7 separate regions of the Homo sapiens genome follow, and all the other regions are linked to region 3. The links come from fine-mapping of genetic effects on gene expression. A gene starts in region 3. Each other region holds a variant in brackets. All regions are shown on one strand. Distances are between the middles of the regions.

Region 1 (4,077 bases), 56 kb after region 3:
TAGTAATAGTCTTCGCAGCAAAATTCTTCAGTGGTGTTTCATTCCTCCAGAGCTCCTTCCCATAACTTGGGTTTTAAAATCACATCTCTCTGTGACCGCTTCATGTTGTTCCCTGTTGACAAGAGATCTGGCTTTTAAAGAGCAGAGAAGCTATTGGCAGATTAATTTTCCTTTCCAGGTTTATCTTGGTTTAACGACTTTCCCAAAATATTTCTGGGTTGGGCCCTTGGGCTCTTTGGTTTTCAAGGCAATTTGTCAACAATGACAAGCGCTTCTCATTTTCTAGAGCTCTTAGACTATTTCCAGTTTTAATCTCTGACCCTTGCCTTTCTCCTCTTCAGAGTGGAAGTCGCTATGTTATGTTTTATAATATGTTGTATTGCTTTTAAAGTGCCTACTCATATGTCAACTCAGTTGACCCTACATTAAACCTGTGAAGAAGGCAGGACAGGTCAAATTACTGAGATTGAGAGAGGTTAGATGGCTTTTCCAAAGTCAGGAGGTAATAAATAATAAAGCAGGTGATAAAACTCAGGTTTTCAGATTTCATGGTTTTATTCTTTCCTTAATGTACCCTTTATCCAAGAAAAGGGAGTTAGACTAGCTGGAATAGTTACACTTTCAGCAGTAAAGATACCTGGATGAGATACTTTTTTCTCCTTCTGTGTATGGTCTGTGGGACTTCACCCAGACATCAGCATAGGCCCTTTGAAGCAATATGTGGACTACCAATAATTCCTAGACTACAATTTCCGAAGCTGTTGTCTGTATATTAAAGCATATGTATGTTTCATTTATTTATTTATTTGTTTGTTTGTTTGTTTTTGAGATGGAGTTTTGCTCTTGTTGCCCAGGCTGGAGTGCAACGGCACGATCTTGGCTCACTGCAACCTCCGCCTCCCGGGTTCAAGCGATTCTCCTGCCTCAGCCTCCCGAGTAATTGGGATTACAGGCATGCACCACCATGCCTGGCTAATTTTGTATTTTTAGTAGAGACGGGGTTTCTCCATGTTGGTCAGGCTGGTCTCGAACTCCCGACCTCAGGTGATCCACCTACCTTGGCCTCCCAAAGTGCTGGGATTACAGGCATGAGCCACCATGTCCAGCCTATGTATGTATATTTTAATTTCTTCTCCTTCCCTTTAGGTGGTTCTAACTTTGATGGTTTGAGACCAAATGGGAAGGGAGTGCCTATGGACCAAAGCTCCAGGGGTCAAGATAAACCAGAAAGCTTGCAACCAAGGTAATGCAACTCTCCCTTCACTTGTCCCTTGTAGGACTGAGGTTCTCCTCACAGTACTGAGACCATTTTGGGTATAATGTAAGTTGTCCCAGGGTAGCTGGCCTAGGAAGTGTCCTTTTTTTTTTTTTTTGAGACAGAGTTTCGCTCTTACTGCCCAGGCTGGAGTTCAGTGGCATGATCTCGGCTCACCGCAACCTCCACCTCCTGGGTTCAAGTGATTCTCCTGCCTCAGCTTTCTTGAGTAGCTGGGATTACAGGAATGTGCCACCACACCTGGCTAATTTTGTATTTTTAATAGAGATGGGTTTTCTCCATGTTGGTCAGGCTGG[T/G]CTCGAACTTGTGACCTCATCTGATCCTCCCATCTTGGCTTCCCAAAGTGCTGGGATTACAGGCATGAGCCACCGTGCCTGGCTGGAAATGTTCTTAATAATACCTGACATTTATTTGCACTTACTGCCAGGCACCCTGCTCTTATTTGGACTATCTTATTTTAGCCTAAGAGGTAAGTACTTTTTTCTGTTTTACAGTTAGGGAAACTCAGGTAATGAGAAGTTATATAACTCACCCAAGGTCCCAGAATTATCAAGTGGTCAATCTAGGATTTGGAACTGGCAGTCTAGCCCTCCCTTGAAAATGTAGATTAGAAACGTTTGATTTCACTCTTTCATTCTTTTAGGTGTTTCCTGACTCTGAAGTGACTTTTTTTCCTGTTTTATTTACTCTTTCCTGACTCGCCCCTGAGGTGTGTTATTATATAAATATCTGAAGTCTGTACTCCAGTGCCCCCTACTGAATATCTCCAGAATCTGTCTGGTCAAGATAAAACACTTACTTGTATCAGTATTTTAGTTACGACTATAAATACAGTACAATGCAAATAATAATAAAATATAAATTCTCATTGCCTTTCTTTTTATTTTGGATTATTCCTGTGGAATAGATGTACAGAATAGAATGATCAAGTTAAAGGACCTAGAGGGTTTTACAGTTTTTTTCTTTTTTTTTCTTTTGAGACAGAGTCTCACTTTGTCACCCAGTCACTGCAGCCTCCGTCTCCCAGGTTCAAGTGGTTCTTGTGTCTCAGCCTCCCGAGGAGCTGGGATTATAGGCATGTGCCACCACACCCAGCTCATTTTTGTATTTTTGGTAGAGATGGGATTTTGCCATGTTGGCCAGGCTGATCTCGAACTCCTGGCCTCAAGTGAGTTGCCTCCCTTGGCCTTCCAAAGTGCTGGGATTACAGGCATGAGTCACCATGCCCGGCTTGTCAATTACATGATTGAATCCCATACTCTGCCACCATTCATGTGGGTGAGGCGTTAATGACACTGGGTTTCATTTTTCTCATTTAGAACTGAGGGAATTAGATTATCTTTAAGATGCCCCTCTGGTCTGAGATTCTGTGACTCTATTATTAGGAAAATCTCCAGACCAACATATTATACAATCAACAAAATATAAATTTACTTAATTCCACATAGAAATAGTGTTGTTTTAGTAGATAAATTTTACTTTGGCCTCCTTTAGTCTTCTGTGACTTAGATGCTTGTATAGGGGAACTTTTAGCTTTGTATTCATTCATTTTGCCATGGGGACTCATCCACATATGAAAAAAATACTTCTGTTTTTCCAGACAGAATAAATCCAAGTCCGAAATTACTGACATGGTTCGCTCCTCCACTATCACAGTGTCGGACAAGGCTCATATTTTATCCATGCAGAAGTTTGGACTGCGAGATACAATTGTGAAATCACATCTACTACAGAAAGAAGAGGATTACACCTATATCCAGAACTTCAGGTAGCTAACTGGGTTCTAGGATGTTTTCAGAGCAGAATGATCATTTGGCACTCTGGAATTTGAGCACTTCCTCCTATACCTGGATTTGGAGACATACTCTTCTATAGAATCTCTCCCCTCATTTTCAAAATGAGTGATTCCATGCATTCTTTATTAACAGGCATTTATTCTGTGCCCTTTCTAGGTGGGCACGGTGATAGGTGTGGTATAGTGGGAGTGACACGACTTGCAGATAGTTACAGAAATATTTGTGGAGACAAATGGGTACAGAAGAAGGAGCGCCATCCTGATTCTTTTATTTATTTATGTTTTATCTTTTTGAGACAAGGTCTCGCTTTGTTGCCCAGGCTGGAGTGCAGTGGTGCAGTCACAGCTCACTGTACCCTCAGCCTCCTGGGCCCAAGTAACCCTCCCACCTCAGCTGCTGGAGTAGCTGGTAATACACATGTGCTGATTTTTAAATTTTTGTAGAGACAGGGTCGCACTGTGTTGCCCACATGGGTCTCAAGCTCCTGGGCTTGGGCAATCCTCCCGCCTTGGCCTCCCAAATTGTTGAGATTATAAGTGTGAACCACCACACCTGGCCTCTTGATTCTTATGTATCCCTCCAAGGTTTTATACTCCCTTGGCATTCTGGGCCTTTGAAGAAAGTCATTTAAAATGAAATTACTAAAATGAAGTTAGCTGGTGTTTGGTAATCTTTTTAGGCAAGATTACTAAAAGCTAAATTAATAAAGGTTGTGGGATTCTGCTAGATCTTTCAAAATCGTTGCATTGGGACTATAAGATAAAATAACATTGTTTCTAGGGATACAAACTGTGAATTATGGTGAAGAAATAGCCTTTTGAATACTGGTGTTGCTTTCTTGCCAAAAGTAATTACCAAAGCACTTTTCATTTTTTCATTTCAGTAGTATATACAAGGCAAATAATTATGCAGATAATGCCTGGGTAATGGCTGTTTAAAGGAAGTGGGAATGTTCGGAGTAGGCCTATACTATTTGAAGTTGTTATCACAAAAGTAACAGATACC
Region 2 (4,077 bases), 150 kb after region 3:
AGAATATTGGGAAATAAACCTCCACTATCCTTTATAGCCAGGGACTTTTTTCTTATTTATTCATAAAATAAATTATAGTTAATTATACCCATAACACCTTTATTTAAATCCAGTGTTCTCCGCAGCCTTTTGTCTATTTATATGTGTACCAAGTGTTAAACATAATTATTATTGGGCATTTGAACTTTGTTTTTCTTTAAAGAAATGCTGCTATTAAACATATTTGTAAATGGTTTGTTTTTCTTCTTTTGAATTATTTCCTTAGGAGAGTAGGTCAAAGTGTAGGAAGTATTTATGGCTCTCAGTATGGATTAGCCTTCAAAAGAACTGAGTCAAGTTACACTGCTGTTAGCAGTGTGTGAGAATGGCTGCCTCTGCCCCCTGGCCTTCCCATGTTTAGTATTTTTCAGATTGTGTGTGTGTTAAATGAAGCCAGTGTTGCTACCTTCTGTAAATTACTACAGGTCAACATCCAACCCTTTCAGCTGTCCCTGCCTGCCTTGGTTTCCCCAGCTAAGCCCCAAAGCCAGGTGGCCAGGCCTGCTCATCTCTCTGGTGGGGCTTAATATCAGTTACCTAACTGGGGCTGGGTGTCCTTGAGGTGACCACTGGGGTCTATTTCCTCCTTCCTCCCCTTCCCTCTTGTACCCTAGTTCCCAAAATTCTGATTCAGTCTTTTTTTTTTTTTTTTGAGACAGAATCTCTGTTGCCCACACTGGAGTGCAGTGGCACGATCTTGGCTCGCTGCAAACTCCGCCTCCCAGGTTCAAGTGATTCTCACACATCAGCCTCCTGAGTAGCTGGGACTACAGGTGTGCACCACCACACCCTGCTAATTTTTTTGGTATTTTTAGTAGAGATGGAGTTTTGCCATGTTGGTCAGGCTGTTCTTGAACTCCTGGCCTGAAGTGATCCACCCGCCTTGGCTTCCCAAAGTGCTGGGATTACAGGCATGAGCCAAGGCACTCAGCCCATTTTTTACTTTTTTAAAGACACGTCTCTCTGTGTTGCCCAGGCTGGTCTCGAACTCCTGAACTCATCCTTCCACCTCAGCCTCCCAGAGTGCTGGGATTACAGGCATGAGCGACCACGCCTAGCTTCCAATTCAGTCTTGAGCCCATAAACTTCTCAGTACAGTGGTTTCCAATGCACCTGTTTCCAAGTATATCCTAAGAATCTTGTGTTAACAGGGGCCTGCTTTAATCAGGGTTCCTGCAATTAGCGTATTAGTTTATTGGTAAATAAGCACTGGTTTGTTAATTCCCTCTAGAAATCTTGTTTAGTAATGTTTTTTGTGTTTTCTTTTTGTTTGTTTGTTTGTTGTTTTTGTTTTGAGACAGTCTTGCTCTTGCCCAGGCTGGAGTCCAGTGGTGCCACATTGGCTCACTGCAACCTCCGCCTCCCAGGTTCAAGCGGTTCTCCTGCCTCAGCCTCAGAAGTAGCTGGGATTACAGGCACCCACGCCCAGCTAATTTTTGTATTTTTAGTAGGGATGGGGTTTCACCATGTTGGCCAGGCTGGTCTCGAACTCCTGACCTCAGGTGATCCACCTTCCTTGGCCTCCCAAAGTGCTGGGATTACAGGTGTGAGCCACCACGCCCAGCCTTGTTTAGTAACTTTTTTTTTTTTGAGACGGAGTCTCGCTCTGTCGCCCAGGCTGGAGTGCAGTGGCGTGATCTCGGCTCACTGCAAGCTCCGCCTCCCGGGTTCACGCCATTCTCCTGCCTCAGCCTCCCAAGTAGCTGGGACTACAGGCGCCCACCACTACGCCTGGCTAATTTTTTTGTATTTTTAGTAGAGACGTGGTTTCACCCTGTTAGCCAGGATGGTCTCGATCTCCTGACCTC[G/A]TGATCCGCCCATCTCGGCCTCCCAAAGTGCTGGGATTACAGGAGTGAGCCACCACGCCCAGCCATTGTTTAGTAATTTCTTAAGCAAACCTACTTGTTGTGGTAAAGCCATAGCCAGCCCAGCTCCTGTATCAGTTTGTCACAGAATCTAAGGTCAGAATCTGTGAGGTCTTAAAGAGAGCAAAAGGAATGCTTACTTGAGAATACCAGTTCATATTTAATTACTACTAATCACAGTAGCACTGAACATGGCTCTAGTGAGTGGGCCTCAGTCAGTTCAGGCAGCTAAAGGGAGGGGGATTTCCTCCTAGTCCTCTCCCTAGAGCTAAATATGCATCTGGGAAAAATTAGGCTCTGGAGCACAGAGGTATTTTTCTAGAGGAAAAAGAACTGAACTCCCAGCACTAGGTAAAACTGCAAAAAGAAAAACACCTGTGCCCAGGCACTAGCTACAAGGCCACACCAGAAAAGGAAAGCTGGGTCCTGGAAGCTTCAGGACAGGAACTCTTCCTTGGTCAAGTTTTCCCCAGCACCTAGCACATAGGAAGGTGCTTGATGAGTGAGTGTTAAATGAACCTGTGAGTGCTCAGGATGATTTCCTGATAATTGGGTTCAGGAATCTACTGGGAGGAGCTTAAACCTAGAAGTTCCCTTTTTGAAAGTCTCAAATATGGTTCCCTAACTTAGAGAAGACAGATGATGTGGGAAGGAGGCCTGAGGAGAGGATGCAGGCTGGCAGAAGGGAGCAGGGTGCATGCGAGCCCAGACCCTGACACCCTTCCAAGGGTGGTGACTGGGTGGCCACTACACAGCACCAGCCTGCTGCAGAGTTCAAAACTAGAAGGGGTTACATGAAAGTGTTCCCAGGATGTGGAGCTGCCCTGGGCTAAGTTCAGTCACCTGCCAGCCTCTGCCGTTCCCATCACCACAGAGCACCTCAGCACCACTCGCCTGAGGAACGGGCTCTGTGTTGCACAGGCCCATGCCTGACGGCCCACCCAGAAACACCCATCTGCTGACCTCTGACCTGGGAACGAGTGAGTGGCTACAACCTCAGCTGAACCCCACATGGTGACATCTTCCAGCAAGGCAAGGACATCAGCACCTCACGCCCATTTACAGGCCCCTCACATGAGCCACTGCTCCTTCTCTTTGATGAAGTGCTCCGCCCAGCGGCGTGTCAGCTCCAGGTACAGGCTGGGCTGGTGAGGCAGGTAGTCCAAATACAGGCGGGTGGGTGTCTTCTTGGGAATGGCCTTCTCAATCTGGGTGCCCTCGTGCCACTCATTGAAGGAGGTAATGGAAACGATCTCGGGCCTCACTGTCAGGGCCGCCTGCAGGGCCGTCTCATAGTACTTGCCATTGACCCTGTTGCGCGTATTGTGGTTGTTCCAGGGCCGAATGCTGGTGTCTATGTAGCCAGGCCCCACACTGGGGATGAACATGAGGTTGTTGGCATCACAAAAGTTCTTCACAGCTTTCCAGTTCTGATGGGAAGAACCAAAGGAGAAACCATTGGAGGCAAAGTAGGTGTACATGCCGTCAAATCCGGCGGCCAGGATATCGTGGGTGTGGCCCTCCTCCACCAGCAGCGCTATGAAGACCCCATCGTAGGGCGTGTTGCGGATCGAATGGGGCCCGTTTGGTGTCAGGAGGTGGGCCCAGGCCTCAGGGGACGTCAGGTATGAGTCGTAGATATAAAAGAGTGGGAGGCTCTTGCCCATGCTGTTCTTATAGCGGTAAAATGCACCATGGGAGCCATACCTGAGAAGGAGAAAGAAGAGCCTCAGCTGGATGGGAGAGACCAGCACAGCTGTAGGACCTCCCGTGGATGAGATACGGATGCAACACAGCCCAGTTCTGGAGCCAGTCAGTCTCCACAGTTGGAGTCATCATGCCTCTAAGCAAGAACCTGGTTCCCTCCTTCCTCTCTCCAGTTGTCATTCCTAAGCCTCACTTCCCTACCCTTAGCCAAGCCACCACCGTCTTCCATCTGGATTGCAACAACAGCCAGCTAACTGGTCTCCAGGCTCCCATCCTGCCTCCATATAATCCATTCATTATTCCCACCTACTTGATCTGGCCCTGCCTACTCCATTCCTGCTCTTTTCCCAGCTATTACTCCCCATCTGGCCTTTCTATCCGGCTCTCATGTGTCATGCAAGCTTGTTCCATCTTATGGGACTTGCATCTGCCAGCCCTCTGCTTGGAATTTTCTCCCTGCCTCCGG
Region 3 (4,077 bases):
ATGGAACCCCCCAAGGGGGCAGGCCCTCAGCCCTAATCTCAGGGAGAGGATAGGGTTTGTCTGGAAAAACAGAAAACCTCCTGCCTGACCCCCACCCAGTGGGAGGACCCCCAAATCCTGCAGGGACAGTTTCTTCATCATAAAAAGCACACAGCCCCATCTACTTTGCCCAGACCCTCCTCGCCAGGCTTTGACACTAGAGCAGGGCTGGAATTGGGGTTCCTCTGCTTCCCTGCAGTGACCCCACCCCTTGATCCTAAGGGTCTGAGTCAATCCCCTTTCCCCTCATCGTCCACATGACTTAGACACTGAATTCAAATAAACTTGAGCTCCATTTGTGCTGTGGATGTTTCCAGGAAAAGAAATGGATTGAGAAGAAGGCAACGACTGTTTCTGGAAGGGGTTTACATATGCAAAGTTGAACTGGTCATTAGGATGGCCACTTCACTTGGGGAAAGAGGAAGGGAAACTGTTCACAAGTCACAACAGTCACCCCCTCCCCAGCACTGAAGGCCCATTCCTTCAGTTTGGGCCAAAGCTTGAGAGAAGGTGTATTTATTAAAATAGTTCAGAAAGTAATTCACTAACTCCATAGATAACTGTGTGCCAGAAACTGCTGGTATGTTGATGAAAAGGCATAGTCCTGTCCAACGGGAGCTTACAGCTTAATTAAACAGCCAATAGGCCAAGTGAGAATGATCCTAGCATTCCTTATCTGAGCTGGGTGAGCAATCACAGCTCACTGCAGCCTTGAACTCCTGGGCTCAAGCAATCCTCCCACCTCAGCCTCCCAAGTAGCTGGGACTACAGGCATGCACCACCATACCCGGCTAAATTTAAAAAAATTTTTTTTTAGAGATGGGGTCTCAAACTCCTGGCCTCAAGCGATCCTCCCTCCTTGGCCTTCCAAAGTGCCGGGATTACAGACATGAGCCACTGTGCCCAGTCCCTGTGCTGGCTCTTTTTGTCCATCTTGGGTAACCTCCTTATCTTAGATGGGGAAATTGAGTCCCAAGGGAAGAAAGGTCTTGGCCAAGGTCACAAAGCCAGGCGGATCAGGGGAAGGACGTTGCCGGACAGGAACAGTGTCATACCCTTTATAAAGTGCGTTCACACCCAGTAGCCTCAAACAGCCCTGTGTGGCAGGAGGGCTGGGTGGGGCTAAGGGAGGAAATAGGGCAGTGTGTAGCGGTATAAATGGCCCAGGAGTTGCAGTCAGACTTTCAGTGGAGTCCCAGTGTTGCCACCTGCTAGCTGCAGGACTTAATGTCAAACTGCTTAACCTATCCAAGGCTCAGTTTCTCCACCTGGAAAATGGACATAATGGTTCTTCATAGTCTGGTTCTCCCTCCATTAAACCAGGAGAAGGTAGTTATTTTAGGGGAAGAGTTTCAGTAGAGGTCCGGGTTGTCTACCCTGGAGTGAGAAGAGCTGAGGATGGAACTAAGGAGAAAATAAAAATGCATTATATTCTTCCCCTAAGATAAAATGTGACCATCTTCCTTCTGGGTGGGAAGCTCTGGCCCCATGACCTAGAGGGCTGGGGATGGGAGTGAGGGCAATCATTAGAAAACCTTTCTGGTATAGGAAGCCCAGTGTACCCCAGGGCCTAAGGGGTTAACACGGATGGAGAGACTCCCCACCCCACGATTGACTCGGGCATGCTGGGACTTGCAGGCTGACTGACCACCATGTGGCGCAGGGGCTGTTGGGAAATGTAGTCACTGTCCCGGAACCTGGGGCAGCGGAGTCCCGTGCGCCCTGTGGTGACAGCTCAGGAGGTAGGTGACAATGTCAGGGAGCTGTGGGTGGGAGCAGAGCAGGAAAGCCAGGGCAGGGCTGGGCAGGAGGGAGTGGGCAAGCTGAGGGCTGGGACACCCCCCAACCCCCGGCCTGCAGCTGATGCAATGGGCCTGCTGGGGCGGGGGTGAAGGGCAAGCAGCAATGGGACACTTCCTGTCTCCAAGGAAAGAGGAATGGGACCCTCCTGAATGACAGTAAGGGGATGTTCCCTGAACCCCACATGGACACACCACTGACACCTCCCAGAGAGGCGCTAGCAGAACAAAAACTGTCCCCAAAAGAGAGGAAGAGCCATGTCCTAGGAGCAAAGGGACTAGGTCCCCTTCTCCAATCCACGTACCCCACTTCCAACAAGGATAGACCACACTCAAGAGCAACTGGATGCCCTCCCAGACAAAGGCAGTATAGCAAACTGTAGATCCCAGCGGGGCAAAGGGACTGGACCCCTATCCCTAAAAACTGAAAGGCCTATTCTAGGGAGGACAAAGAGGAGGAGGAGGAGGATCAGGCCTCCCCGGTACCATCTCCCTCTGCAAAGGCCCCTCCCTCCTGCCCCCAACCCCTCTGAGGCAGCTCCACCACCCCATGCGTAACTTGTTGACCAAAGCGGGGCTCCTATCTCCCCTCCCACAGGGTGTGTGCGCTCAGCAGGGGCCAGCATGGACCAGTCTGTGGCAATCCAGGAGACGCTGGCTGAGGGGGAATACTGCGTCATCATATCCTTCCTGTGCTAACTGCGGCCCTGAGCCTGCCCTGGCCTTGGGAAGAGGAATGGAAGGTGTCGAGGTGTCTATCCCCTCTCCTGCCCCTCTGAACCATCAGGGGAGAAGGAAATCAGTATTTACTAAGTACTTACTGAGTCCTGGACTCTCAGCCAAATGCTTTAAATACGCAGTTATCCTCCTAACTCCCTATGAAGTTGGGGATTATTATCCTCATTTCATAGATAAGGAAGGCTTAGAGAGCCTGTTTGTCTGTTAGTTCAGCACATGGTTTGAGTGCTCACCCAAGGCCACACAGTGAATCTGGGGGGGCAGGGGAACAGAGGGAAGGTGGGACAGCCTGGGTGGGGAGAGGCCTCGCCTCTGGGTTGTCTTCCCTTGACTCTGAGCCGCAGGCGGTGCAAGGTGTGCTGTGTGAGGGGGACAGCCGGCAGAGCCGCCTCCTGGGACTCGTGCGCTACCGCCTGGAGCACGGCGGCCAGGAACACGCGTGAGTGAGGGGCTTGGTCCCCACCTGTCTGGGCCATGGGGTTGTTCATCACTGCACCCTCCAGCTGAACTTCAACTGTCCCTCCAGGGCAGGGTCTGAGTCTCCTAGAATAATTATCACAATGATAGTTAATATTTTTTGAACACTATATTTTAAACCCTGCACACGTACTAACTCATAATCCTCAAGATCTAAGGAGGAAGTTTCTTGAGAAGAGACAGTTTAACATACTAGTCCAGATCTTGAGCCTCGTGGTCCAAATGCCTGGGTTCAAACCCAGGCTTTGTTACTAACAAGCCACATGATCTATTGTTTGTTTGTTTTGAGAAGGAGTCTTGGTCTTTGCCCAGGCTGGAGTGCAGTGGGGTGATCTTGGCTCACTGCAACCTCTGCGTCCCAGGTCCAAGCAATTCTCGTGCTTCAGCCTCTTGAGGAGCTGGTATTACAGAGGTGCCCGCCACCATGCCTGGCTCATTTCTGTATTTTTAGTAAAGACAGGGTTTCACCACGTTGGCCAGGCTGGTCTTGAAGTCCTGACCTCAAGTTATCCACCTGCCTTGGCCTCCCAAAGTGCTAGGATTACAGGCATGAGCCAGCGTGCCCAGCCTCACATGATCTTTTTTTTAGAGACGGGGTCTCTTTCTGTCACCCAGGCTGGAGTGCAGTAGTGCACTCATAGCTGCATGCTGGAACTCCTGGCCTCAGGTCATTCTCCCACTTCAGCCTCCCAAAGTGTTGGAATTTTAGGCATGAGCCACCGCACCTGGTGGAACCACATGATCTTGAGCAAGTTGTTTTACTCCTCGATTTGTCCATATTAAAGAGTAAAGTGAGTTAGGCCAGGTGCAGTAGCTCATGCTTGTAATTCCAACACTTTGGGAGGCTGAGGCAGGAAGATTGCTTGAGCCTAGGAGTTCGAGACCAGCTTGGGCAACATAGCGAGACCGCCCCCCCTACCCCGCCCCACCTCCCGCTCCCCGGCTCCATCTCTACAAAAAATAAGAAAATTAGCTGGGTGTTGTGGTGCATGCCTGTAGTCTCAGCTACTCAGGAGGCTGAGGC
Region 4 (4,077 bases), 48 kb after region 3:
GACAAGAGAGAGACTCTGTCTCAAAAAAAAAACAAACAAAAACCGAAAACAAAAATTAGCTGGGTGTGGTGGCATCTACCTGTAGTCCCAGCTACACGGGAGGCTGAGGTATGAGAATTGCTTGAACCCAGGTGGCAGAGGCTGCAGTGAGCTGAGATTACCCCACTGTACTCTGGCCTGGGTGACAGAGTGAGTGAGACTCTGTCTCAAAAAAAAAAAAGAAAAAAAAAAAGAAAAATTCAAAGTAAACATGGAGATCTGTGGGAACACCAGACAAACTTCCAGTTGAAAGTAGTTCAGCCGGGCGCAGTGGCTCACGCCTGTAATCCCGGCACTTTGAGAGGCTGAGGCGGGCGGATCATGAAGTCAGGAGTTCAAGACCAGCCTGACCAACATTGTGAAACCCCGTCTCTACTAAAAATACAAAAATTAGCTGTGTGTGGTGGCACGTGCCTGTAATCCCAGCTACTCAGGAGGCTGAGGCAGGAGAATCGCTTGAACCTTGGAGGCGGAGGTTGCAGTGAGTTGAGATCGCACCATTGCACTCCATCCTGGGTGACAAGAGAGACTCTGTCTCAAAAAAAAAAAACCGAAAACAAAAATTAGCTGGGTGTGGTGGCATCTGCCTGTAGTCCCAGCTACGCAGGAGGCTGAAGCACGAGAATTGCTTGAACCCAGGAGGCAGAGGCTGCAGTGAGCTGAGATTGCCCCACTGCACTCTAGCCTGGGTGACAGAGTGAGTGAGACGCTGTCTCAAAAAAAAAAAAAAAAAAAAAATTCAAGGTAAACATGGAGATCTGTGGGAACACCAGACAAACTTCCAGTGGAACGTAGTTCAGCCGGGCACAGTGGCTCACGCCTGTAATCCTAGCACTCTGGGAGGCCAAGGCGGGCGGATCATGAAGTCAGGAGACCGAGATCATCCCGGCTAACACGGTGAAACCCCGTCTCTACTAAAAATACAAAGAAATTAGCTGGGTGTGGTGGCGGACTCCTGTAGTCCCGGATACTCGGGAGGCTGAGGCAGGAGAATGGCGTGAACCCGGCAGGCGAAGCTTCAGTGAGCCGAGATCGTGCCGCTGCACTTCAGCCTGGGCGACAGAGCAAGACTCCATAAAAAAAAAAAAAAAAGATGAAATGGAAATCTTTTTATGTGTATTATTTTTTCAAATTGCTACTAAGTTGTTAGGACTTAAATACTTATTTGGCCCTAACTACTTAAGTAGAACTGTTAGGGATTCCTTTTGGCCTAGAGGTACCTTGAGAAAATTATTATTATTATTATTTTGAGGCAGAGTTTCGCTCTTGTTGCCCAGGCTGGAGAGCAATGGTGCGATCTCGGCTCACCGCAACCTCTGCCTCCCAGGTTCAAGCGATTTTCTTGCCTCACCTTCCTGAGTAGCTGGGATTACAGGCATGTGCTACCACGGCTGGCTATTTTGTATTTTAAGTAGAGACGGGGTTTCTCCATGTTGGTCAGGCTGGTCTCGAACTCCCAACCTCAGGTGATTTGCCCACCTCGGCCTCCCAAAGTGGTGTTGGGATTACAGGTGTGAGCCACTGCGTCTGGCCTCAGAATTGTTAATCAGGACCCCCATGGAACACCATTATCAACTAGAGTACAATGCTTCTGTACAGTTCCACTTGCCTTTAGTCTTTTTTTTTTTTTTTTTGACAGTTTCACTCTTGTTGCCCAGGCTGGAGTGCAATGGCGCGATCTCGGCTCACTGCAACCTCCGCCTCTCGGGTTCAAGCGATTCTCTTGCCTCAGCCTCCCAAGTAGCTGGGATTACAGGCATGCGCCACCACACCTGGCTAATTTTGCATTTTTGGTAGAGATGGGGTTTCTCCATGTTGGTCAGGTTAGTCTC[G/A]ACCTCCCGACCTCAGGGGATCCGCCTGCCTCAGCCTTCCAGAGTACTGGGATTACAGACGTGAGCCACTGCTCCTGGTGCCTTTAGTCTTATAGATACCACTCATTTCTAAAGTTACTTAGGTAAACACTTTTTCCCCTACTCCCTTCAATGAGGTGGTTTCATACCTTTGTGATATAGGTTAGACACTTTTGTCATTTTCTGCATTTTACTCCAGAATCTCCTGACGTCCTAAATGATTTTTTAAAATTTTGTATACATTAAGGTTCATTCTTTTTTTTTTTTTGAGACAGAGTCTCACCTTTCGCCCAGGCCAGAGTGCAGTGGCGCGATCTCGGCTCACTGCAAGCTCCACCTCCTGGGTTCACACCATTCTCCTGCCTCAGCCTCCCGAGTAGCTGGGACTACAGGTGCCTGCCACCGCTCCCGGCTAAATATTTGTATTTTTAGTAGAGATGGGGTTTCACCGTGTTAGTCAGGATAGTCTCGATTTCCTGACCTCGTGATCCACCCGCCTCGGCCTCCCAAAGTGCTGGGATTACAGGCGTGCGCCACCGTGCCCAGCCCAGTTTCATTCTTTGTGTTGTAAAAATCTGTGGGTTTTGAAAGCTATAGATACTACCATGTATCACCATTATAGTTTCTTTTGAGTATAGTTTTGCTGTCCTAAAAAGTCCCCTGTTCTTCATTTATTTGACCCCACCCTCACCCCCAAAACCCCTGGCAACCATTGATCTGTTTACCGTCTCTATAGTTTTGTCTTATCCAGAATGTTGTGTAATTGGAATCATATAATAAATAGCCTTTTCAGATGGACTTCCTTCACTCAGCAATATGCATTTAAGATTCATTCATGTATTTTCATGGCTTGATAACTAATTTTTCTAATTGCTTAATATTTTATTATATGGATGTATCACAGTTTATTCATCTGTTGAAATATATCTTGGTTGCTTCCAGTTTTTGGTGATTTTAACGCTGCTATAAACTTTTCTGTGCAGGTTTTTATGTGTACAAAAATTATTTTTCTTGCCATATTTTTTAGAGGTGGGATCTCCCTCTGTCACCCAGGCTGGAGTGCAGTGACAAGATCACACCTCACTGCAGCCTTGAACTCCTGGGCTCAAGTAACCATCCCTCCCCAGCCTCCCAAGTAGCTAGGACTATGGGCATGTGCCACTACTTTTATCTTATTTTATTTTTATTTTTATTTAATTTTATTTTATTATTATTATTATCATTATTTTTAATTGATCATTCTTGGGTGTTTCTCGCAGAGGGGGATTTGGCAGGGTCACAGGACAATAGTGGAGGGAAGGTCAGCAGATAAACAAGTGAACAAAGGTCTCTGGTTTTCCTAGGCAGAGGACCCTTCGGCCTTCCGCAGTGTTTGTGTCCCTGGGTACTTGAGATTAGGGAGTGGTGATGACTCTTAAGGAGCATGCTGCCTTCAAGCATCTGTTTAACAAAGCACATCTTGCACCGCCCTTAATCCATTCAACCCTGAGTGGATACAGCGCATGTTTCAGAGAGCACAGGGTTGGGGGTAAGGTCACCGATCAACAGGATCCCAAGGCAGAAGAATTTTTCTTAGTACAGAACAAAATGAAAAGTCTCCCATGTCTACCTCTTTCTACACAGACACGGCAACCATCCGATTTCTCAATCTTTTCCCCACCTTCCCCCCCTTTCTATTCCACAAAACCGCCATTGTCATCATGGCCCGTTCTCAATGAGCTGTTGGGTACACCTCCCAGACGGGGTGGTGGCCGGGCAGAGGGGCTCCTCACTTCCCAGTAGGCGCGGCCAGGCAGAGGCGCCCCTCACCTCCCGGACAGGGCGGCTGGCCGGACGGGGGTCTGACCCCCCCGACCTCCCTCCTGGACGGGGCGGCTGGCCGGGCAGAGGGGCTCCTCACTTCCCAGTAGGGGCAGCCGGGCAGAGGTGCCCCTCACCTCCCGGACGGGGCGGCTGGCCGGGCGGGGGGCTGACCCCCCCACCTCCCTCCCGGACGGGGCGGCTGGCCGGGCAGAGTGGCTCCTCACTTCCCAGTAGGGGCGGCTGGGCAGAGCGCCCCTCACTTCCCGGATGGGGCGGCTGGCCGGGCAGAGGGGCTCCTCACTTCCCCGTAGGGGCGGCTAGGCAGAGGCGCCCCTCACCTCCCGGACAGGGCGGCTGGCCGGGCAGGGGGCTGACCCCCCCACCT
Region 5 (4,000 bases), 990 kb after region 3:
TCAGCCTCTGTGTATCCATCCACGTGTTTGTGTGCACGTGTGCGCTGCTCGGTGTGTGGACGGGGAAGCACAGTTTGGGTGGTGTTGGGTCAGGCCCAGCCCCTGTACCCCACCGCCCCACACCTGCCCCTTCCTGTCCTGCTGGCAGGGTTGATGACAGCCATGCCAGGCCCTACCCTTAGCCAGGTGGGCTGTCACTTATTTAGGGCTGCTATTTCAGGAGGGGAAGCAGCTGGCTGGCGGGCTGCTCATCTGAGCCTCAGCAAATCAGTGAGCTCAGGACCCACTCTGGGGTGGCCCCTCACTGCTGAAGTCTGCTTGGGGTTGGAGGCCCATGTGGCTGAGGCCTCTGTCTACCACCCTGACACCACTTATAGCACCACCATCCAATGTAGAGCTGGCTTGGGCTTCCTGCCTGTTCTCAAAGGAATAGGCCCTTACCCAGGGCTCCTATGGACCTGTGTGTGTGTGTTCGTGTGTGTGAACGTGCATGTGCACAGGTGGGTACACACAGGCATGTGTCCCTGGGTCCACACCTGCAGGCACTTGCCCACTATGCACTTATACTTGTGTGAGGAAGGGCACCTTTCTGTGGCCTGAACTCATGTGTCTGTAGCTGGTTTTTTTCTGTGATTTGTCTATGCATGTGTGTGTCCTTGTGCGTGCACAGGTGTGTACACATGTGCTTCTCTGCGTGTGTGTGGACCTGTGTATGCATATGTATGTGCATGCACACTCTTTCCCCAGCCTCCTTACAGTAATCAGGGGAACCTCAGGGACCTGTCCTTTGGAACACAGACATGTGCTACCTGTGCTCCTGCTGCTGGCCTCAGCCCCCGTCCCCACCCCAAGAGTCCTGGAGACCCACACATGCCACACAATGCTGCCTTGCCCAGAACCCTGGAGTGGCTCCCCACATGCTTTCTGTTGGCCTTCAGGGTCGGGGGCCTCCTCCAGGCCACTCTCACTTCTCCCGCAGATGACCTTTCTGGCTGCTCTGATTGGCATGTGGCTTCCTCTACTGAAAGGCATTCCGTGACTCTTCACTGAGCAAGTCCTCTGATGCTGAGGCTGTGTGCTGGGCTCCAGGAGAGGCAGCAGGGGTAATCATGGGCCAGCATTCCAAGACGTCTTAGGCTAGTGCAGTGGCAAGATCCTGGAGCTCAGATGTAAGGTGTGCTAGAGAGAGGTGAGCTTGGTGAGGGGTGAGAGCTTCCCAACAGGAATGCCCCCCTCTATCTCACCCTGAGAAGCATTCTTGTCTTTGAGAGTCCCTGGCACAGCCCCTCATCTGGTTCCCCAGCGGAAAGGATGCCCTTCGTCCCCCTTGACCCCTTGCACCTAGTAGATCCCTTTCCTCTTAGGACTAACGGTTTCCCATCATCAGAGCTTGGCTCAGCTGGCACGAAGGAAGGAGGCCAAGGGCAGTCTGACTGCAGGGGCAGTACCCTTGGGAGACAGGGGCTGGGGGTCCTCTGCCCTCTAATTGTCCTTTCCCGGCAGCTTCCCTCAATCAAGCCATTGATTTGAGGGCCCCCTCTGTGCTTCCCCTCCAGGGGAGCTTCTTCAGGGCCATGCTTTGATTGCTGCGGAGCGAGTGAAGCCTGTGTGAGCATCCCCTCTGAGCATCTCTCACCACCTGCCCTGCATCTCTGCTTGGACATCTCAAAGGCACTCAGCCCCAGCTGGCACCTTCGGGTGCCACTTCCGTGAGCTGGAAACCTGTGGGGTCCCTACCGACTCCTTCCTAGTCACCTTTCCTTTCCCCTGCCTGGTCCATGGCCCCATTGTGCAGATTCACCACCTAAGCATACCCAAGCCCTCTTCTGTCTGCCAGCAGCCTGCCCTAGGCCATTGTCATCACCACCTAAGCTCTTCTCCTTACGTATGCCCTAGCCCTCACCCTTCAATCTGTTCCACATGTGAGATCTACAATTTTGATCATGGCACTCTCCTGCTTAAAGCCATCAATAGCTCACC[A/G]TTGCTTTTAGGATGACTCCTGCCCTTCACTTGGCACACTAACTCCTTTATCCTGCAGGTCTCGGCTCAACAGCATATCTGCAGGGAGGCCCCCTTGGACCTCACTCCTCTTGCCCTCTACCTGTGCCAGGCCAGGTCCTCTTGCCATCTGTTCTGCTCAAGCTGGGAACGCTCCGCACTTGCCAGAGCCCAAGGGCAGCTCCTCCTGACTAAGTGCTATGAGGCAGGGGCAGGGGGAGGGGCAAGGACAGGGCTGTCCACACGTTGTCCTCAGTGCTAGCAGTGAAGTGTTGTGTCTGCACAGACATGGAGCCCAACAGACGTGTGCTGAATGAATGCATGAGTAAAGGGCACTTGAGCACAGTCTCTTCCTCCTCCTCCCGCTCCTCCTCACCCAAGTAGTCCTGGGTCAGCCTGCAGAGCCCTTCGGAGGACACAGCATGGACACCCTGATGGTGATGCTGATTCTCCCTGTCAGCTGCCTTGTACAAGTGTTGCACGTGCTGTTCCCTCTACCTGGAGCATTTCTCTCAGGCACATAGCTCGTTCCCTCTCCTCCAGATTTGGCTTCAAGTGTTCTCACCTTGAAGAACCCTTCCCTGAACACCATGTATAAATTAGACCCCCCAACACCCAGTATTCCCTATCATCTCCTTTTGGCTTTTCCTTCCTGGCACTTATCACAATGGAATAGTCATTTATTCATTCATTCATTCATTCATATGCTTTCTCATTATCTGTTTGCCCCACCAAACTCTAAGCTCCCTGGAGGCAAGTTCCTCCCCACTGTTGACCCGGCACCCATCAGAGCCTGCTGGCACACAGTGCGTGTTCATTATGTGTGTAAATGAAGGATTGCATTATGTAACTTATTTTCCAACCCTGTCAGGGATCCACTTTAGAGATGAGAAAACTGAGGACCAGAGAAGTGAAGAAACTCACTAGTGGTCACAAAACTAATGAGAGAGGTGGTCTGGAGGTTCACATCCAGATTTGACTGATCCTATTTACTCTCATTCATTCATTCATTCATTCAGCACCTGCTCTGTGCAGAGGCCCTGTGCTGGGAACAGAGGCACAGAGATGGGATCATCACAGCTGCTGCCTGGATGACAGCTCAGTCCAGAGGGGAGGGGACTGAAGACAGTGGTCAGGAGGAGGCCCTAACGGACATCGTGGGCCCTGAGGAGACACCATGGAGGAAGGGCTCTTTGAGTAGGGTTTTGAGGGATGAGTAGGCTCTCGTGGCTGAGTGGTACGTATTGTACAGCAGAAAGAACACTGGACAGGGAATCAGGAGGCCTGTGTTCCAGTCATCCCCACTCCCTGTCACTTTGGGAAAATCACATTCCCTTGCTGACCCTGTTTCTGCATCTGCAAAGCCGGGCAGGCCCTGTGCTGACAGTCTGTGGGCTGAGGTGGCTGACTGGCAGGAACATTCATTTCCCTTCGATGCTCCTCCCCACAAGACAGAACCCACCTGGCAGAGGCCCTGGCTGTTTGGCAGAGTGGGCAGAGCATGGGGCAGCTGCCCTCTACCTGCCCTGCCTCCTGTGGTCCTCCCGCCCCTCCGCCCTCCAACCTCCTTCTCTCTGCTTCTTCCCTGTTCCCCCCATTTCTGCCCTCTCCTCTCCCTCCTCCTCGTCTTCCTCAGCCCCTTTCATCCTCTTCTCCTTCTCCCTCCCCCTTTTATTCCTCCTCTTCCTCACCTTCTCTTCTTTCTCCCCCATTATTTTCCTGCTGCCCTGCCCAAGGGGGAGAGCACAAAGGGTAGTCAAAGTTAATTTAGGCTCAAGTACCTGGTCACCTAGAAACAAGGCCAGTCCCCCAATGCAGGGCCTCAGCCGTGGCCTCATTAATCTGCATGCGACCAGCATTGCCAGTTCGACATAAGTAGGACAGAAGCCATGCTGCCGAGGAGAGGGGGCCTTGGGCTCTGGCCACTTGGTCCCCCAGCAGTCACGTGGCCACCCCCCAAGTGTGCAGTGGGAAGAAGACAAAGGAGAAGGAAGGAGAAACA
Region 6 (4,077 bases), 21 kb after region 3:
CGTCTTCAGGTTCAGACCAGTGTCTAGGAGGTAACTTGTGGTGTTGAAGTCAGGTAATGCTTTTGGTTGAGTGGCAGCTTGTTCACGTGATTCTCTTGCCAAGCCCAGCTTGCACTGACTTTAGATTGGTAGTTGAATCGGTAGATTGGTAGGAGTCTTTCTGCTCCTGCACTTATTTAACTGCTCCTTTTTTTTTTTGAGACGGAGTCTTGCTGTGTCACCAGGCTAGGAGTGCAGTGGCACGATCTTGGCTCACTGCAACTTCCACCTCCCGGGTTCAAGTAATTCTCCTGCCTTAGCCTCTCTAGTAGCTGGGACTACATACATGCACCTGCACGCCACCACACCCAGCTAATTTTTGTATTTTTAGTAGGGATGGTGTTTCACCTTGTTGGCCAGGATGGTCTCCATCTCCTGACCTTGTGATCTGCCCGCCTGGGCCTCCCAAAGTGCTGAGATTACAGGCGTGAGCCACCGCGCCTGGCCTCACTGTTCTTAACATCTTTTTTCTTTTCTTTTTTTTTCTTCCTAACCACTAGATGACCAGGGATGCTGTTAACTTCCTTTTGCAGCTTTTTCTTTCCTTAAAAAGAGTGAAGTCTGATTTGGGAGAAATACCTCATTATTTCCATCTAGCAACTGAAGTTGCTCTTATTCAGAAAACCCCATTGAGGATCCTGTACAGGGCCCAGTACTTATCCAAGTCAGTCTGTAAAATGTTCACCTGCATTGCATCCTGGGTACATGCAAAACCTGGAGCTGTGTTCTGGAGGGTTTTGAACTATGCACTAAAAAGGAAATGGCTACTCAGAAGTCCCACAGGGGCCATTCTGGGCTATTTTAACAAAGCAGTAATAGCAAATACATTTTGTTTTTTTTTAATCCAAAGTTGATTAGAAATGAGCCAGCTTCGCCGGGTGTGGTGGCTCAAGCCTGTAATCCCAGCACTTTCAGAGGCCGAGGTGGGCGGATCACAAGGTCAGGAGTTCAAGACCATCCTGGCCAACGTGGTGAAACCCCATCTCTACTAAAATATAAAAAATTAGCTGGGCGTGGTGGCGTGCGCCTGTATCCCAGCTACTTGAGAGGCTGAAGCAATCACTTGAACCTGGGAGGCGGAGGTTGCAGTGGGCTGAGATCACGCCACTGCATGCCAGCCTGACGACAGTGAGACTCCGTCTCAAAAAAAAAAAGAAATGAACCAGCTTTGTAGTAACTCAAATTTACAAGGGGATGTGTTTAAGTATTTTTTCTTCTGGACCCAGGAAACAAAGTATTAAAGTCTGTCATGCCAGTGAAAGGAAATGAATGCTATTTATATCTCAGGGTAACATAAAGGGTAACCTAGTTTACCAGAGTAGAAGCCAGAGAGCATGTTAGCAAAATAGCCCCCGGGGTGGTTTTCTCTCTCACTCTCTCTTTCATCTTGTTTTGTCAGTACTAATAGGTAAAACTTGTGTGACCAACATATCCTTTTAGCATGGAGAAAATAAATTTGCTTTTGTTTATCTTAGAGAACAAATATTGCCCATCATTTCCACCGTTGTGGGAAGCTCTGCAGGCTCCTAAGTAACTTATTTTAAGTCACTTTGTTTCCTTAAACAAAAGAGAACTGTATTCGTTTTTCTTCTTCCTTTTGTTGTTCCCCTCTCCATTTTCCTTCTTTGGGCCATTTAATCCAGTTTTATGTTTCTAGTACAAGAGAACCCCCTAAAGATTCTTTTTTTCTTCTGAAAACAGTTTGTTTTGGAATTCTGCAGTTATTGTTGAGAGCAAGTGAGGTGACCCACAAACACTCAGTTAGAAGTGGAGCTTTGAACAGAAAAATCCTCAGGGAGGGACAGTTCAGGAAGAGGGAGGCATCAATATATTTATTAGAGGAAAGATACTGTACTGTTGGAGGATAGATGCTA[G/C]CTGACTTGCATGTTTTTCTTTGCTACTTAAAATATACTGTTAGCCCGGCACAGTGGTGCGCACCTGTAGTCCCAGCTACTCGGAGGCTGAGGCAGGAGTCTTGCTTGAGGAGTTCCAGACCAGCCTGGGCAACATAGTGATATCTCTAAATTTAAATAGATAAATATATAAAATAAATTACGCTCTAACAGTTTTGTTATTGGTGATCCATACATGAACTGAAGCTAGCAAATATGAATGAGAAGAGACTTTCTTTCTTGGAATGCCAATGATGAGAATTTAAACAAAGTGGATGTCAAGAGGCCTGGACATTTTTCTTTTTCTTTTCTTCATGGTTCCTTGGTGCACTATTACTTTCTCTTTTTGTTTTTATTTATTTTTATTTTTATTTTATTTTATTTTTTTGAGACGGAGTCTCACTCTGTCACCCAGGCTGGAGTGCAGTGGTGTGATCTCTGCTCACTGCAGCCTCCACCTCCTGGGTTTAAGCAGTTCTCCTGCCTCAGCCTCCCAAGTAGCTGAGATTACAGGCATGTGCTAACATGTCTGGCTACTCTTTGTATTTTCAGTAAAGACGGGGTTTCAACATGTTGGCCAGGCTGATCTTGAACTCCTGATTTCAGGTGATCTGCCCACCTTGGCCTCCCAAAGTGCTGGGATTATAGGCGTGAGCCATCATGCCTGGACTAATTTTTATATTTTTAGTAGAGACAGGGTTTCACCATGTTGGCCAGGCTGGTCTTGAACTCCTGACCTCAAGTGATTCAGCCTGCCTTGGCCTCCCAAAGTGCTGGCATTACAGGTGTGAGCCACCATGCGCAGCCTCTTTTTGTTTTTAGAGACGAGATCTCCCTGTGTTGCCCAGGCCGGTCTCAAACTCCTGACCTCAAGTGATCTTCCCGCCTCTGCCTCCCAAAGTGCTGGGATTACAGGCATGAGCCACCGCGCTTGACCTCTTTGTACGATATTAAACGTGTGTCTCAACTTTCCTCTTATGTCTTTAAAATGGGAGTGAATGTTTGCCTCCTGGAAAGTCACACAGGACTTAAGCAATGCTAATTATTTAGACGTGCTTTCATTTGGGAAATACAATTAGAAATGGGAAATGCTGGCCAGCAGCGGTGGCTCATGCCTGTAATCCCAGCACTTTGGGAGGCTGAGGTGGGCGGGTCACTTGAGGCCAGGAGTTTGAGATCAGCCTGGTCAACATGGCGAAACCCTGTTTCTACTAAAAATACAAAAATTAGCCCGGCAGGGTGGCACATGCCTGTAGTCCCAGCTAGTCAAGAGGCTGAGGTACGAGAATCGCTTGAACCCCAGAGGTGGAGGTTGCAGTGAGCCGAGATCACGCCACTGCACTCCAGCCTGGGCAAGAGCGAGACTCTGTCTCAAAAAAAAAAAAGAAAAAGAAATGGTAAATGCTCACCTCTGAGAACTGAGAACCTGGCTGCTGTCTTCAGGGTCTATCCTAGGGGGATTTCTTCCTGATAAGAACTGCATTGGCTGGGCACAGTGGCTCAGGCCTGTAATCTCAGCACTTTGGGAGGCTGAGGCAGGTGGATCACCTGAGGTCAGGAGTTTGAGACCAGCCTGGCCAACATGGTGAAAACCTGTCTTTACTAAAAATACAAAAATTAGCCAGGTGTGGTGGCTTGCGTCTGTAATCTGCGTGCCACTTGGGAAGCTGAGACAGAAGAATCACTTGAACCCTGGAGGCAGAGGTTGCAGTGAGCAGAGATCACGCCACTGCACTCCAGCCTGGGCGACACAGCGAGACTCCATCTCAAAAAAAAAAAAGAACTGCACTTACTCCTTTCCTCCCTCCATTTTCATATTTCTGAATGCAGTCACTAACAACCTCAGGGTATCCTTGACTCTTCCCTCTGCTCTCATGTCTAATAAGCAAATTCTGTTCATTTTTTTTTTTCTGCAGTGCCTCTCCTATCTACCCACATTTCAAAATCCCCCTTATTCATGTTGGTATCCTCTTAGCTGAACTGTTGCAGTAGTCTTCTTGTAAGTCTTCCCAACCTCAAGTTTCCCTCTCCTTTAGGGATCTCCTTAGAACATAACTTTGATCGTATTCTACTATTTTGTATGTGAACTTCAATATTGTACCACTCCCTGTTGCCTATAGAATAAAGCTCAAATTCCTTAGTATAG
Region 7 (4,077 bases), 130 kb after region 3:
GGTTACTCGTGTGCATAAAAATTCTAAATGAAAGGGTGTGGTTTCCATCAATCTGATGCTGCCCATCGCTTGCACTGGGGTCTTTGTGGATCGGGCAGGAGTTTTCAGTGTGTTGGGTGTTGCTCCTTCCTATGTGTCTTTTGAATCTGAGGCTGACATTTGCTTGGAAGGCCAGACCCTTGCTCCATCAGAGAGGGCAGTGGCAAAGGCCAGTGAGGCAGCTGTGAGTTGGACAGGGTTCAGGTGAGATGGTGTTGTCATTTGTGCTTAGTGTTGGTGGTGCTCAGGGTGGATAACACGGGTCGTTCTGCAGCCCGCTTCAGCACAAATAGGCAGCTTAAGGCCTGGCTCACAGGCTGTGGGGTTGATCTGGCTCTGCAGAGGCCCTAGGCAGCTTGTTGACTGCTGTCTGTTGATGACGTGTGTGCAAAGCAGGCTCTAGCAACATGATCACTGTCCTTGCCTTCCTGGTTCTTTCTCTCGGTTGGTTGCCAGGGCTTGCAGATCGCAGTGAATTTTCCTTGGGGAACATCGCTGTTTTGTCCTAGAGTGAACTTGTGGCTTATGGCCAGTGCTGTTTGGTGGTCTGCCTTCTTTTTAATGGTATTTTCTTCCTCAGAGCAGAAGGGCTGCATTTTGCTTATCAGAAGAAGGTGCAGATTTAAGGGAATTCATATGAGGTGGCATGTAATTGGCAGGCCAGGTGTCCTGGTTCCAGGTTCCAGCCAGGCTTTGGGTTGCCCCCTCCATCTCTGCCCCCCTCTGGATTTTGCATACAGCCTCATACAGTGCAAACAAGGATGTGACTTGCTCAGCTTAGTCATGTGATTTATTTAAAAAAAAAAAAAAAAGAAACACAAAACGATGATCTTCTACTCAGGGTATAGCAAAACAAAAAAATTCCCTTTCCACCAAAAAGCCTGAAATGTTGCAATAAGTTATCTCATTTGGAATGTTTCATTAAGTTGTGTTATAGGAAAAAATTGTGTGTGTGTGTTATAGAATTATATCCATATGTCTGCCTTTGGCTCCAAGTCATTGCCTCTTAAAATAAAAGATACAATCCATACTAGCATGAAAAGTTTCCCTCAACAGGCTATATTAACATAGTCATGAGTGCTGACCAAACTCACCGAGCTCAGAGGCCAGGCATGGCCTGAGGTGCAGAATAGGCCTCTGCCTCCCAAGAGCCCTTTCCTTGCCCTGAGCAAGGAGTGGTGTTCCACAAACAAGGCTGCTCTTCTAAGCCAACAGTGTCAGGCAGGAAGCAGCCATAATTTTGCCTTGCATTTTCATTCCCTAATGTAAAGGGATCTGCATTGGTCACTCTCCTGTTCTCTGAGCCATTGCTCAGGGCCAGCCAAGATATTATTGAGAACAGATAATTTACCTTGGAGCCAGAGGCCCTCCCTGCCTTTAGCAAGGATGTTCAGGGACAGACAAAGAGGGCAGTGGTGGTGAATGTTGTTACTGCCATGAGGAGAAATGGCAGTAAGAAATCTTAACTACAAGCAGCCAATTTCTCATTCCAGGACCCTAGCCAGAATAATTGACTTCTTTTTTTTTTTGAGACAGAGTTTTGCTTTTGTTGCCCTGGCTGGAGTGCAGTGGCGCAATCTTGGCTCACCGCAACCTCCACTTCCCAGGTTCAAGCAATTCTGCCTCAGCCTCCCGAGTAGCTGGGATTACAGGCATGCGCCACCACGCCTGGCTAATTTTGTATTTTTAGTAGAGACGGGGTTTCTCCATGTTGGTCAGGCTGGTCTCGAACTCCCAACGTCAGGTGATCCTCCCGCCTCAGTCTCCCAAAGTGCTGGGATTACAGGTGTGAGCCACCATGCCTGGTCTAGGGAATTGACTTCTTTTTGACCTTCTGCACTCCCTTCCCCAAAAGGATTGTGGCTTCTGTTGACCATTGACCTCAGCAGAAGTTGATAA[G/A]GCAGGAGGTTTCCAGTCCTCCTGGAAAACCAACTGCTGAGCATGAGTTGTCCTTGGCTGTCTCTGGGCCTCGCACCCATGGGAAGTTTTGAGGTAGGGCCCTTGCTGTTTACAACTTCTGAGAGAGTAGTGATGGGACCCCAAAGTAAGCTTGTATCAGAGGGCAGTAATGACCTTCCCATATCCCCATCCTGTGGTCACCTGGGATTTGGGTTCCCTGGGGCGGAAGTGGGAAATAGGAGCCCAGGGAAGGACATCTGAAGCACCCACAGTTTAAATAGCGACTCTTCTTGGTTAGCCAGGGCTGTGCTCATGTTGGGCCCTACCCAGGTCAGTGGCCTTTTCACTCTCAAAGATCGGGGGTGACGAAGCAGCATCTTAAACAGTGTTTAGGCTGACAGATTTTTCCAGTTGAAGAAGCTGAAGTATCTGCCTTTTGAGGGTGACTCTAGATTACAAGAGAGACTATCAGATCCAATCAGCTTTTGAAAAATCAGGAATGTGCTTAAAATGCCAGTGAGTGGTTGTGAAGATCAGGTTTATTTCCCAGGATAGGCAGTCTTTCTTTCCCTCCTTTTCCAGTTCTCTTTTCCTACCTGTCCTTCCATAAGCCTGGTCTCTAGTGCCGAGGACCTTGGAGAAGAGAGGGCCCCTAGCTAAGCTGGAGCCAGAAAGAACCTTCATGGTGAGTGTGGTTTCCCAAACTTGGGAAATGAACCTAGGGTGAGGTTAGGGAGGATTTGTAGAATTCTAGCAGGTAAAAATCAAGCCTTTTTCCCCTCCCATAGTAAACTTAACCATTTTCACCCTGTACGTTATCTTCTAGCTCCTACTAACATCTCCAATTAGACAACCGCTTCAAAGGGTGCTTAGCACCAGGGATTGGGGTTCATGGACTTAGGAGGTGGTAAGGAAACTGGCTGGCACCACCAAACTGCCTTAGTGAACTTGGCCCTTCCCAGGCAGGTAGGTTGGGCATTGAGGGAAGGTGGCCCAGTCTTTGCTGGCAGGGTCTGGCCAGTCTCATGGGGGCACCACCAGTTTGGTGACAGAAGTGGTGTCATTTATTGAATTCCACCTCCGTTTAGAAGGAGATCATGGTACAAAGCCCAGGAGGGGCCTTAAGATGTGAAGATCTCTCTGAGTAAAAGGCAAGGGGCTTCTCTTCTTCACCTCTGGGATAGTTGGTAGATCGGAGAGTTTTATTTTCAGGGTCAAGGCTGTGGACTGATGGGGATATTGGAGGGTGGGTGGGTTTTCCTGAGAGACTTTGTATAATGCTGAATGTGTCCAGAGGGACAAGTTTGCAGAACCTCATATTGGTATATTAAAGAAATAATAAAATAAAAAAGCACTTTAGGTTATTTTATCTTTAACCCGATTGCTGCAATTTCTTTTGTGTGTATATATACATATATATACTTTCCACAAAGTTTTATTTTTTGCTCAGAATAAAAAGTTAAATTGAGGTGTGAAAAGAAAAGCACTTACCTTGGTGCAATATGTGTAGCTTGATGGTCGTTGTCCCATGTGGCCCTGGCCTGGCAGCGTTTTTCCGCTCAATCAGCCCTGTGCTGTGAGACTGTCCATAGGGAAACACTATTATGCATTCTCAGCAACCGCTCAATCTATGCAAGCCTTCCCTGTGTGCCCCAGGGCGCCCCCTCAGGCTCTCTGAAGAACTGCTGTGGGTCCTGTTTTCTGCTGACTGTTGAGGCCCTTTTTCATCACTTCTTGGTCTCTCGCCATCTTTTCCCTCTTCACCATTACAAAATGATGCCTGAAAGGAAGGAACAGATTGTTCCTAGGTAGAAACCTGGCACCTTCTAGACTTTTATATTTGTAATCACATCCATTGTCCTTAAAGACTTTTCCAGAGTGATTGAAACCATTGATTTGTGGAACTGCAACAATATTTCTCAAGAGTTTACAATTGTCTTACACCACCAATCAGAAATATGTTTGGGGAGGCATGGGTGGCAGGGGGCAACATGAGCCATTTCCATACTGCTCCCCATACTACCTGTGTTGGTTCCTTAAGCAAAAAGGCCTCCAGCCTTCATTAAATCCTATAAACAAACATTACATCCCATGAATCATTATCAACTTTCTTCCTTTACTCCACCTCCCCCATTTTAT

Alleles and levels. Alleles are on the strand shown, and positions count from the first base shown. SD is a standard deviation of normalised expression in the study named. Not every link is listed here.
As copies of G replace A in region 7, the expression in anterior cingulate cortex of the gene that starts at base 1,718 in region 3 goes down (moderate effect, 0.46 SD a copy in GTEx).

What was found.
Region 1: its variant is fine-mapped to the expression of INPP5B in skeletal muscle (GTEx, PIP above 0.99).
Region 2: its variant is fine-mapped to the expression of INPP5B in cerebellar hemisphere (GTEx, PIP above 0.99). The same link has a PIP of 0.9 or more in cerebellum.
Region 4: its variant is fine-mapped to the expression of INPP5B in B cells (Schmiedel 2018, PIP 0.95).
Region 5: its variant is fine-mapped to the expression of INPP5B in pancreas (GTEx, PIP above 0.99).
Region 6: its variant is fine-mapped to the expression of INPP5B in whole blood (TOPMed, PIP above 0.99).
Region 7: its variant is fine-mapped to the expression of INPP5B in anterior cingulate cortex (GTEx, PIP 0.94).

What each region holds. Positions count from the first base shown.
Region 1 is chr1:37,888,524-37,892,600 of GRCh38, reverse strand. It overlaps INPP5B (inositol polyphosphate-5-phosphatase B), which reads left to right. Exons shown (of 24, transcript NM_005540.3): 8 at 1,147-1,243; 9 at 2,877-3,044. Among named protein-coding and RNA genes, the nearest start is that of MTF1, 31 kb to the right of the region's middle. The variant T/G (reference allele first, on the strand shown) is at 1,573.
Region 2 is chr1:37,799,101-37,803,177 of GRCh38, reverse strand. It overlaps MANEAL (mannosidase endo-alpha like), which reads right to left. Exons shown (of 4, transcript NM_001113482.2): 4 at 2,045-3,611. The coding sequence ends at 2,975. It overlaps YRDC (yrdC N6-threonylcarbamoyltransferase domain containing), which reads left to right. Exons shown (of 5, transcript NM_024640.4): 5 at 1-233. Among named protein-coding and RNA genes, the nearest start is that of C1orf122, 6.7 kb to the left of the region's middle. The variant G/A (reference allele first, on the strand shown) is at 1,848.
Region 3 is chr1:37,944,694-37,948,770 of GRCh38, reverse strand. INPP5B (inositol polyphosphate-5-phosphatase B) reads left to right here and starts at 1,718. Exons shown (of 24, transcript NM_005540.3): 1 at 1,718-1,781; 2 at 2,437-2,519; 3 at 2,921-3,015. The coding sequence starts at 2,463. LOC105378651 (a long non-coding RNA gene) reads right to left here. Exons shown (of 5, transcript XR_001737983.3): 5 at 3,144-3,492. RefSeq lists enhancers at 1-160, 1,550-1,789, 1,367-1,896.
Region 4 is chr1:37,896,774-37,900,850 of GRCh38, reverse strand. All of the region lies in intron 7 of INPP5B (inositol polyphosphate-5-phosphatase B), which reads left to right. Among named protein-coding and RNA genes, the nearest start is that of MTF1, 39 kb to the right of the region's middle. The variant G/A (reference allele first, on the strand shown) is at 1,872.
Region 5 is chr1:36,951,409-36,955,408 of GRCh38, reverse strand. All of the region lies in intron 1 of GRIK3 (glutamate ionotropic receptor kainate type subunit 3), which reads left to right. Among named protein-coding and RNA genes, the nearest start is that of GRIK3, 81 kb to the left of the region's middle. The variant A/G (reference allele first, on the strand shown) is at 1,981.
Region 6 is chr1:37,923,416-37,927,492 of GRCh38, reverse strand. The region is part of intron 7 of INPP5B (inositol polyphosphate-5-phosphatase B); the gene reads left to right. Among named protein-coding and RNA genes, the nearest start is that of INPP5B, 22 kb to the left of the region's middle. RefSeq lists an enhancer at 1,091-1,330. The variant G/C (reference allele first, on the strand shown) is at 1,914.
Region 7 is chr1:37,810,769-37,814,845 of GRCh38, reverse strand. MTF1 (metal regulatory transcription factor 1) reads left to right here. Exons shown (of 11, transcript NM_005955.3): 11 at 1-4,077. Among named protein-coding and RNA genes, the nearest start is that of YRDC, 4.6 kb to the right of the region's middle. The variant G/A (reference allele first, on the strand shown) is at 1,939.